Linked DNA regions of Homo sapiens. The protein of the gene in region 3 purifies or fractionates together with the protein of the main gene of each other region. This does not show direct contact. Each region holds a gene or a part of one and is shown on either strand. Other genes may lie near its edges. The genes, in order: METTL9, GALNT6 and SLC39A10.

Region 1 (3,748 bases), on a different chromosome or scaffold from region 3:
CAAGCAAGAAGCAGGGTTTCACTTAGAGCAGGGAAGTGGCTGGGAGGCCAGACTGGTCTCACAGACTTATTTTACAGCCTATGAAATAAGAATAGTTTTATATTTTTAAATGGTTACCAAGAAAATATCAAAATAACATTTTGTAATACATGAAGTTTCATTTATGGAATTCAAATTTATTTCAGTGTCTACAAATAAAGTGTTTTTTTTTTGAGATGGAGTCTCGCTTCGTCACCCAGGCTGGAGCGCAGTGGCCCAATTTTGGTTCACTGCAACCTCTGCCTCCCAGGTTCAAGCAATTCTGATGTCTCAGCCTCCCGAGTAGCTGGGATTACAGGTGAACACCACCACGCCCAGATAATTTTTGTAGTTTTCAGTAGAGATGGGGTTTCACTATGTTGGTTAGGCTGGTCTCAAACTCCTGACCTCAAGTGATCCTTCTTCCTGGGCCTCCCAAAGTGCTGGGATTACAGGCGTGAGGTACTACACCCAGCCCACAAATAAAGTTTTATTGAAAGAGAACTACCACATTCATTTACCTGTGGTCTATGAGCTCCCTGGCTACAATAGCAGCATATTTGCTACTGTATGGCCTGCAAGCCTAAAACATTTACTACGTGGCTTCTTACAGAATAAAGACTTTTTCCAAGAGAAATTCCCAGCTTCCTTAACAAACAGCTTTTTTTTTTTTTTGGAGACAGGGTCTCACTGTGTCACCCAGGCTGGAGTGTAGTGGCACAATCTCAGCTCACTGCATCCTCGACCTCCTGGGTTCAAGCGGTTCTCATGCCTCAGCCTCTCCATAGCTGGGATTACAGGCACGTGCCAGCACACCTGGTTAATTTTTGTAGTTTTAGTAGAGACAGGGCTTCACCATGTTGGCCAGGCTGGTCTTGAACTCCTGGCCTCAAGTGATCTTCCCACATCGGCTTCCCAAAGTGCTGGAATTACAGGAGTGAGCCACTGCAACCAGCCTCCAACAGCATATTCTTAATCACAGGTTGCAGGGTGGGTAGATTGACTCACTGGGAAGAAATAGAGGCAGGCAGTGAGAAACTAGTAGATATTGTCACTTTGCAATGTTGGCAGACTCAGAATTTAAAAAGACAACAACAAAAAACTTAGGATCTATTCTTTTTGATGCATTGCACCTAGTGCTTAAAGTTAATGCAACTATTATGGAGCTACTGAAACTTTGAAAGGACCCTTAGGCCCCAGGTTCTTGGTAATAATAGCGGTTCAGTAGCTTCTCAATTGATGGAGTGAAAAAATTGTTATAGAACTCGCTGAACCAAACCACAACGATTTCTCCGGGTGACATACTGCAAGGTTTTTTAAAAGCACAGATAACATTCAATATCTGGAATTATTAAGTTGTAACTTAAAATTGCAAGTATGTGTATATTTTTGTGACTTATTTTTTCACTTTCTTATATAAGCTCAGAACTGCGCTATGCCACAAGTGATGAAGAATTCAAGAAAGAATTAAAATCCTTTTTTTTCCCCCAAATGAAAAAATACTTGGACAGCATAGCCAGAGCCAAACACTGTGCTAAAGGACAGAGTGTTTCCTGTCCCTTTACCCCTCACTTACCCTGTGGAGGCAGACTGGAGTCAGGCATGAGTTAACAATGCTTCAAGGATAGTCAGCCAGCTAAGCCGGACAGACACTGATGGATTGGCGTCCTTCTCTGAACTGCCTTCGAGAGTCTGGAGGCCTTTGCAGCTGAATACCAAAGAGACTTCAGAAAGGATTTCTTTGCTTCCTCATAATCTGTGTTGAAACCCCAAGTGTTTGCTTCAGTTTCACAGAACACTAGAATCTCTTTCTTGTGCTGGATATACCAGGAGTCTTTATGTTTCTCTTTGAAGGTGCCCTAGAAGACCCTAATAGCTTCCAGTAAAAAGCTCTGTTGTGTAGACCCTCTGAAGCTTTGTTAAAATTTTAGGATTATCCTGTCCTATGGGGAGTGAGTATTTAGTATTTGCAATGAGGATTGCCAGTAATTGGTTATTAAATCAAAGCTGAAGCCATTTAATCTGTTTTAATTGATTCCCCTCATGGATATGAGGGTGCCTGTCACTGTACACATTGAAATCTCACATAAAGAGGTTATTGGGTTGAGTTTATATTGTTTGTGGGAAAATGGTGAATGGTCTGAATATTTACGCCTATGCTGTGCTTAAATGCAAGGTGTGCATGGTGAAATGTCTGGACTGAGTTGACTGCATTGTAAAATCTTAGAATGTGAATTTTGAATCCTTAGCTGTCAAGCTCTGTTGATGGAGTTGGTCTGGCCAACTTAGAAAAGATTCTGTGTTCATAGATCCTGAGCAGTGGAGCTTTTCTGATTGTTTTTGGTAGCCCTGAATGCCTTGGGTCTTTGATTACCCATTTCTTTTGAGAATGGCTGGATGCCTAGACCTACAGTTTGGTTTTTAGGCATTCCCTTGAACTGTACTTCTCCTCTGACCAGCCCTTGCCTTGGAGAGAAAGGGGAAGGAAATATGAAGAGCTACTGGCCTTCTATTGTGTGCCAGGCACTTCAAATATATTATCCCCAGTAGTCCACATAGAACTCTTGGAGGTTGGTGGTATCATCCGCACTTTACATACAGAAAAGTGAGGGTGAGAGAGAGAAGAGACTTGCTCACCAGCACAGAGTTAATGGATGATAGAGTTGGGCTTTGCACCCAGCTTTGGTTTCAAGGCAACACATTTTCTGCTGCTTTATGATGCCCCTCCTGGTAAACCTTGTGTTGTCTGAGGGGTGGTAAAAATAGGCTTGCCTTCTTTTTTTTTTTTTTTTTTTTTTTTTTTTTTTTTTTTTTTGAGAAACAAGTTCTTACTCTGTCACCCAAGTTGGAATGCAGTGGCCTGATCATATCTCACTGCAGCCTCAAACTCCTGGCCTCAGTACATCCTCCTGCCTCGGCCTCCTGAGTAGCTTCTAAATCTTTTGTAGAGGCAGGGTCTTGCCATGTTGTTCAGGCTGGTCTCAAACTCCTGGCCTCAAGCAGTCCTCCTGCCTCAGTCTCCCAAAGTGCTGGGATTACAGGCGTGAGCCACTGCTCCTGGCCTAGGCTTGCCTTCTGAATAGGAAACTGCCCTCATTCTAGTGAGGCCTCTGTGTAGACACTGAAGTTAGGTAGCTGTGTGCACAATACTTGTTGAAGATTTTGTAGTTTGTGAATTAGATGAGAATAAGACAGCTGCTTGAAGTTCTGGCCTTTATCTGGTTTGTGCATGCTTTTTTTAAGGCTTAAAGTTGAAAAAAGATTCTTACATGTATTGTCATTTTTTCCTGACATCAGCCATTCTCTAATTTTCCATCACCAAGTGGGTGTTTAATTGTTCAATCCTGTTCTGACATTAACTACCTGGAGTTAGGGTCACGCTTTACAGAGTTAAGAGCTCAGTCCCACAAGACTGCCCTCACTTCAGAGGCCAGCTGGAAGTCCTGGGTTCCCAGGCTGCCAGTGCTTTTGTCCACCTTGAACAAATTTGGGAGTTCCCACAACTCTACCTTCACCCTACCCCACCCCACCCCCTAATTTCCTATAATAGAATGACTCATAGAACTTAGGAAAACACAGGTGCGGTGGCTCACGCCTGTAATCCCGGCACTATGGGAGGCTGAGGTGGGTGGATCACGAGGTCAGGAGATCAAGACCATCCCGGCTAACAGGGTGAAACCTGGTCTCTACTAAAAATACAAAAAAATTAGCTGGGCGTGGTGGCACGTGC
Region 2 (3,748 bases), on a different chromosome or scaffold from region 3:
TCAAAACAAACTACTGGGCACAACTTCTCAGAGGCAAGGAATAATAGGGGTAATGAGGACTGGACATCTGGTGACTGGGGACTCTTTTGCGATGTCTGTGGGAAAGGGTTAGGGTGAAGATAGAAACAGGTTAGTATGTTCACAACTAGGGCTAGAAAAAAAAAACAGATGAGTAACCAGTCATCATCCTTTTTCTGGAAAAATCAGGCTCCCCTTCCCAGTTCAAAGGACACATGCCCTGGTAACCTTTGAAGTTTCCCTACCTATGTACAATAAGCCCTTCATAACAGTCAGAGAAGATGGTGGCCCCAACTCTGGTGGACCCCAGAACTCTGAGAGATTCCAGGAATTAGGCAAATCAGGATTAGGTCAGGAAGCAAGGATTGCCTCTCCATGAAACCTACACAAATCTCCATGCCATGGAAAAGTAATTAGTAAGTAGATGAGCTCATTTATGAAGTCACCTCTCACGGTGCCTGATGCATATTAAGCACGTAATTGATGCCTGCTGTTACTATAACGATTATGTATTTCTGTTGCTGCCACACTAAAATGAATAACAACATACTTTCCCACCTAAAACCCAAAAGAAGAAACCAGTGGGAGGGATGTCTTCAGCCAGCCCACCAGCATAGAAAAGGGTCACCTGCCAGTCACCCCAACTCCCAGCGGCCCAATCCTAGGCTCCTCCATGAGCCTCTGACCTCTGTTCACCTTCCTAGGCAGCCAGTGTGCTAAGGGCCCAAGTGACTACCACTAGCCACCTAGCAGCCAACTATCCTTGCTATTAATTAACAGACTGATGCTCTGGTTTTTATCACCTGAGGGAGCTGATAAACTCACATTTCCAGGTCAAAAAGCCAAGTGATCAGAGCTCAGAGTAGGTATACAGGCACAGGTAACAAAAATTAACCAGCAGGCTTTTCCCTAAAGTGGGCCCTGGTAAACACAGGACCCTGCAGTCTCCCTGTGCTTAAGTCAGAGTGAACCAACATCAGAAAGCCTGGGATCGTGTAGTCATGGCCTAGGAAGAAGCCTGGTCGGTATCCTTTTTCCCAGGGAGAGAGAGCAGCATTTGCCCAAGTCCTTGGACCTGGGGTCTGGTGCTCTGGGAATAGAATAGAGCTGCTTATGGGGAGACTGTCTCACCTAGCCCACTGAAGGCCTCATCCTGTCTCCTCTTACATCAGGTGTGGCAGTGTGGGGGCCAGCTGGAGATCATCCCCTGCTCTGTCGTAGGCCATGTGTTCCGGACCAAGAGCCCCCACACCTTCCCCAAGGGCACTAGTGTCATTGCTCGCAATCAAGTGCGCCTGGCAGAGGTCTGGATGGACAGCTACAAGAAGATTTTCTATAGGAGAAATCTGCAGGCAGCAAAGATGGCCCAAGAGGTGAGAGGAAATGGTTCTCGGAGAGGTTTAGATGAAGAGAAGTACGGCCCCCAGACCCTGTTCATGGGCCTAATGGCTGGGACCCACCTCATCTCTACCATCTGGCGCCTCCCTTCACCCTCAGGGACCTGTGAGCTAGAGCCCAGGAGAAGGCCACAAGGCACATAGGTTTCAAAAGCTAGAGAATGTTGTCCCTACGCATAGAGTCTCTGCATCCCTTTGGAGGGGAAGGGAGGGAAAGGAGATTTGGAGGAAAAGCCTCTTACGGAGGCTTTGGAGGCTTTGGAGGAATGGCTCTGAGAGCCTCGGCACTGGGGAGTGGGACATAATTGTCTGGGGAGTCACAGGAGATGGACCGATAAGCAGGGGACTCCAAAGCTAAGGCGGGGTTTTTGGGATTGGATGTGAGGGCTGGGCCAGTATCTTTAACAGGTCCTGAGTGGGAATGAACATGAGAGACAGTAGCCCCAGGCGCTCCATGCTATCTGCACTACTTCAGCCCAGACAGGAAGGTCAAAGACTGGTGGAACTGGCTGGGTGTGGTGGCTCACGCCTGTAATCCCAGCACTTAGGGAGGCCGAGGCGGGCAGATCACCTAAGGTGAGGGGTTTGAGACCAGCCTGGCCAACATGGTGAAACCTCATCTCTACTAAAAATACAAAAATTAATTGGGCGTGGTGGTGCGCGACTGTAGTCCCAGCTACTCAGGAGGCTGAGGCAGGTGAATCGCTTGAACCCAGGAGGGGAAGGTTGCAGTGAGCCGAGATTGCACCACTGCACTCCAGCCTGGGCAACAGAGTGAGACTCCCTCTTAAAAAAAAAAAAAAAAACTGGTGGAACTGATCCTTAGGGGGCTGGCTTGATTGACAGAAATCCTTCGGTGACATTTCGGAACGACTGCAGCTGAGGGAACAACTGCACTGTCACAACTTTTCCTGGTACCTGCACAATGTCTACCCAGAGATGTTTGTTCCTGACCTGACGCCCACCTTCTATGGTGCCGTAAGTCTTGAGAACCAACCTGCCTGCCCATCACCACAGCACCCCTTGGAGAAGTTCAAGACCACTGACCCCACAGATGGATGACAAACAAGAATTGAGTTTTGCCCTGCACCCTCCTTTATCCAGGAGGAGGACTGAGAGGCCACGTTGGGGCTTCTAGAGATAGCAAAAAACCTTATAAAGGGCAAAACAACCCACAAGCAGTGGTCCTGAAACATTAGCATGCATCAGAATCACCAGGAAGGCACGGTAAAACGCTAGGGCCCATCCCCAGAGTTCCTGATTCAGAAGGACTCAGGGGAGGTCTGAAAACTTGCATTTCTCACGAGTCTCCAGGTGATGCTGATGGTCCAGGGCTCACATTTGAGAACCACTGCTTATAAGGAAACTCCCACGTGCTGAGGGCTTCTTCCAGGGACCTGGCATCCTGGGAGGTTCCCTGCCTGCCCCACAGAGGGGTTCAGTCCTGCCCTTTCCAGCCTCTGGGGCTCTGCAGCTCACTTTGCTGTTAGCTCCAGGCATGTGGGTTAACGCACAGAGGAGAGAAATGACGGGGGAAATCCAGCCATGCAAATTTGTTGCAGTTGACTGGAATTTGTTCCAGTGGGGCCCCATACCACACATGAGGAACCTCCTGACTGTGCCATCCTGCTTCCCCTCTCTGCTCACCCTTCTGCAGATCAAGAACCTCGGCACCAACCAATGCCTGGATGTGGGTGAGAACAACCGCGGGGGGAAGCCCCTCATCATGTACTCCTGCCACGGCCTTGGCGGCAACCAGGTATGCAGCCCACCCATCTCCGGAGCATCTCCTCTCCTCACCGGCTCCTTTTCTCTACCCTAAAGAGTCCTTTCCTGAGGACTGGGAGGGAGGAGATACCATCCCTGCCCTCAGGAAGCTTCCAGTCGGAGGAGAAGGCATAACACACACAAGGTCTGAATAAGGGACATCCGGAGAGAACGAGGCATCGGTGCTGGGTGTGAGAAGGGGATGGGAGGGAGGGTTGTTCATCAGAGGAGGCTTGAGGAGGCTAGCTGCTGGGGGATATTTAGGGGTGAGGGTGGAAAATTTTCCAGCACATCCCATCACCTGCACTCAACTTCTATCTTCAATGCATCCTCTGCCCAGAAGCTACCACTCTGATCCTACCACCTTCCAGTGACCCCAAAACTAGGTGCCCAGCACTAGTAAGTGAGAGGCACTGAAAACAGAGCCAGAGTGGGGAAAGGAGTGGTGTGGGTCACTGAACAAGCCCGCTGGCATATGTAGGTGAAGACAGTCATTCTACAGCAGTTTCCTGTACCACTGGCCTGCAAGATGATTTCCAGTGGTGCACTGGAGAACATTTTTTATT
Region 3 (3,748 bases):
ATGCTAGTATGCAGAGAATCATTTATTCTATCTGATAATTTTGCTTGAAAATCTGCCCAAATCAGTGTGTATACACTTGAAAGTAAATAAATGTTTGGGTGAGTTTAAAAAGTGTTAGGAGACACAGTCTCTATTTTCAAGTTGCTTACCACATAGTTTTCTATAGGGATGACATTTAAAATATGTAACAATTAGTAAAGAATAGGCACCAACCAAGTAGAATGGGAGTGACTAATAAGAGCTGGGTCCAAAGGGCTCTATCTTAGCCAGGTATTAACCCACTAGTTCCTAAAATGTGGAGGTCTGGGGAATCTTGAGAGGAAGGACTGGCACAGGGGTGAGAAGCATGGGGGGATACCACTCAGAGTTGCAGCTGTTAACCAACTTGCATTGAAGTATTTCAGTATTTGATTAGTTGGTTCAGCCGTACTTGTGTGTACCAGCTGAACATTAGCCTTGTATATCCATAACTAAAAAAGCAGTGTAGGTGCCCTAAAATGTAAGGACTGCAAGCGCTATATCTTATTGATATTTGAAAGAAAGGTTATGTATGTTTTAAGGGTGTTGATAATAATGTGTTCAATAAAATAAGTATGAGCCATAAAATATCAAGCTAATTTGGAAGCTTCTTATGCTTTGCACACAAAGGATGTACTATCATGATTTTATGAACTCTAAGGACTTTAGTTCTAGGATGAACCTTAGAATATATTTAAAACGATCCCCTTAATTTATCAATGAATCTGAGGACCACAGCTATTGTCTCACATTTAGTGGCAATGGTGAGACTTGAAACTAGGACTCAGGCTTAATCTCTTTTCTCCACACCTCAGGACTTCTCCCTTTGTAAGCAGGAGTGAGGTCCATGCTCTGGCTTTCCAAACAAGGAAAAGGGCATATGAGTAGTTCAGTGTTCTGAACTACGTATGGCAATCAGTAGGCATTTATCAAGCACCATTTTCGTTGTTTTGGATGTTTTTTGTAGAGATACAAAACAAAAAATAACCTTCTTTCATGAAGGTATAATATGCAGGTTAGCGGGACTACCTAGCCGTCCATACTGAATGGGTTTGGAAATCCCAACTCTTTTCTCTACCTGCTCTGTGATACCAGGCAAGTTAAAGTCTTGTGTGCCTCAGTTTCCTACCTCACCGTGTTATGGTGATTAAATTAATATATATGTGGAGTACTTGACACACAGTCAAGCCTGCGATTACTGCTGTTCATGGTTTTATTTTCTCTACTAGACACCAGTAAGGCACCCCCAGAACTCGCTGTGTTAAGTAGATTCTGGTTGGATATAGAAACACAGGCACCCCAGGCGGAATGCAGATACGCCTCAACATGTGGATTAAGTAAGAGCCAGGAAGCAGAGTAATGAAGCAAAAATAAGACGTCCAGAGTCACCTTTTAAGAAAATGTGGGTTGGTGGTTGCTTAAGAGGGGAGGAGACAATTTAGATGGGATGTATGGCGTGAGCAAAGGGCAAGAATGAGCACGGTGTAGGCACAAGTCCATGGAACTGCTTGGCTGGATCGGGATTTTTTTGTCATAGAGTGTTAAGAAATAGTCGATCAGTTGAGGAGTAGAGGAGTGAAGACCTTGGAAAGTTGCCAAAAGCCTCGAGAATTTCTCTACATGTGTGACATGTTCTCAGGACTCAACTTTTTCTTTTAGGTTTGGAAGACCCGCAGTAAGTGTGCTTTAGAATTAAATGGGTGGGAAGGGGAGCTAGGCAAAACACCTCGCACTTAGCACTAAATAAAGTTCGCTGTTGCCCTAAGAGACTGAAAAGGTTACTTTAACAAAGGGGGCGGGGTTAACTTAACGTAGATGTTTAACTCGTATACAGATGAACATTCCAGTTGATCACTCTGAAGCTTTTTGGCTAAAGCGTTTGGGTTTAGAGCTTCCATTACTCATTCGCCTTGCCCAAGGCCTCAGCAACCGACGTTCGAAAGCCAGGAGAAAAGGCGAATGATAAAGGGCGCTCCACGCATGCGTTAAGAAGCCGCCCCAACTCCCCCGCGGCGTTCTTTCTTGGAACAAAACTAGCGCGGAGCCACGGAACTCCGCAGTTTGCGTAGACTTGAATTTCCTATTCCTCGGACGATCCATGTGGAATCCGTGAGTAGTGCGACTCCTTTACGCAACTGGCGTTATCCGAAGTGAATAGCTAGGTGGCGCGTGTACGCCCATAGCGTAGCACCCATAGGCGGACGGGGTGCGGCTGCGCAGGGAGCTGAGTGGACCTTGTACGCCGCAAGCGTAGCAGGGTGTCAGACGCGCCGGTTTCTGCGACGCAGTTAGCGCAGTCTGCTTTGGTGAATACACGATTTGGTGCAGCCGGGGTTTGGTACCGAGCGGAGAGGAGATGCACACGGCACTCGAGTGTGAGGTAACTATAAAACCCCGATTTGTTTACATTCCCTCCCCCAGAACCGGCCCCGTGCGCGGCGGAGACTGCGAGTCCCGGGACGGCGTGGGGGTAGAAAGGGAGAACAGAACCGGGGAGTCGGGGCTGGTTCCCTCGGGGATGCGGGCGCTGGGGTTCCCGCAGCTGCTGCAGTCGGCGGCGGCCAGCCGAAGCAGAGCGCGTGGTGGGCAGAGTGTTGGGCGCCGCGGCTCCTCGTGTGCGGTCTGGGCTGCTGCGGGCCGCGGGATCGGGAGCCGGCGGCATCCACTTCGCGTGCGGAGCCTCGCGCCCCCCTCACCTTCCTGTGGAGGTTGGCGGAGCCTCGCGGGCCGCGCCCGGGGTGGGGGAGTGACCGCTGGGCGGGTGGCGGCGGTTAGGGGGCTGCGCGCCGGCCGCGGATGGCGTCGCAGGCGCGGGCGGGCGAGGCTTTGGGGATCTGTAGGCAGGTCTTCGGGGGCTTGGCGACCAGCGCCCCGGTTTTTTCTTCTCCAGTCCTTCTCTCTGGTCTGTAATGGGGCGAGGGGACCCCGGGATGGAGCCTCGGCACCGCTGTTCCGGACCGAGGCTAACGGACGGCGGCGCCTCTGCTCCTACTAGTTTTCTCCCGGACCAACCGAAAAGCCGAGGCGGAGCGCGGGGGTGTGAAGATCTCGGCCTGCTGGGGGTCCCTGGAGCTGAGGGTGAGGGTGGGGCCGGGTCGGTGGGACAGGCCGGGTGGGCCGGAGGTGGCGCGGCCGCACGGCTTTGTTCCGGAAAGCCCTTAGGTGGAGAGCGATGTGGGGCGCGGCAGGGGGATCGCGTAGAGGAACCTTCGCGCACCGCCTCTCCGGGTCTGGGAATCTGCTGAACTCCTTGCCTCTCCTGGGGTCCCTCGAACGCCCCAGCTAAGAAGGGCGGGGGCCTTGCCAGGGCGCGAGCAACATGACGTTCAAGGTCTTCCTGTGGCTTCTGTAAAGAAATGTTCACGTGGGAGCCTGTCCACATGGGCTGTACTAAGGATCTGGCACGAGGAAGAAATATCACTGCAGAACCTGAAGCCCTCCGTTGGAAGGGTCGTTCACTCGAGTACCTATTCTAAGTAACAGTGACACAAAACACATGTTAGAAAAAAACAAAAAGTATGGTAGGTTATACTGTTTTTTAAAAGAAACTTTTATTTATGCCTTTTGCTGTTAAGTCCTCTAATTTTACATTGGAACTGAGTCATTCTTGGAGCAAAACTAGAATAGGTTTGTATTTGTTTTCTTTTTGGATGTGTATCTAAATTGTACATAATTAAGAAAAAGCAAGTAATGGAAAAGCTGGAGATGTAGAACTTAGTTCCTTCTAACT

Evidence for each region.
Region 1: the proteins of SLC39A10 (region 3) and METTL9 purify together in Homo sapiens (co-immunoprecipitation; 3 studies listed by BioGRID and IntAct, with this or other methods). This does not show direct contact.
Region 2: the proteins of SLC39A10 (region 3) and GALNT6 purify together in Homo sapiens (affinity purification with mass spectrometry; 3 studies listed by BioGRID and IntAct, with this or other methods). This does not show direct contact.

What each region holds. Positions count from the first base shown.
Region 1 is NC_000016.10:21,602,464-21,606,211, forward strand, and holds part of METTL9 (protein-L-histidine N-pros-methyltransferase isoform 1 precursor), read left to right. Parts: intron 1-3,748. UniProt on the Homo sapiens protein: Protein-histidine N-methyltransferase that specifically catalyzes 1-methylhistidine (pros-methylhistidine) methylation of target proteins.
Region 2 is NC_000012.12:51,356,775-51,360,522, reverse strand, and holds part of GALNT6 (polypeptide N-acetylgalactosaminyltransferase 6), read left to right. Parts: intron 1-1,190; coding exon 1,191-1,391; intron 1,392-2,261; coding exon 2,262-2,393; intron 2,394-3,072; coding exon 3,073-3,174; intron 3,175-3,748. UniProt on the Homo sapiens protein: Catalyzes the initial reaction in O-linked oligosaccharide biosynthesis, the transfer of an N-acetyl-D-galactosamine residue to a serine or threonine residue on the protein receptor. May participate in synthesis of oncofetal fibronectin.
Region 3 is NC_000002.12:195,654,884-195,658,631, forward strand, and holds the start of SLC39A10 (zinc transporter ZIP10 precursor), read left to right. Parts: upstream 1-2,342; 5' UTR 2,343-2,374; coding exon of another isoform or gene 2,375-2,726; intron 2,727-2,782; exon of another isoform or gene 2,783-2,927; coding exon of another isoform or gene 2,928-3,096; intron 3,097-3,748. UniProt on the Homo sapiens protein: Zinc-influx transporter. When associated with SLC39A6, the heterodimer formed by SLC39A10 and SLC39A6 mediates cellular zinc uptake to trigger cells to undergo epithelial-to-mesenchymal transition (EMT).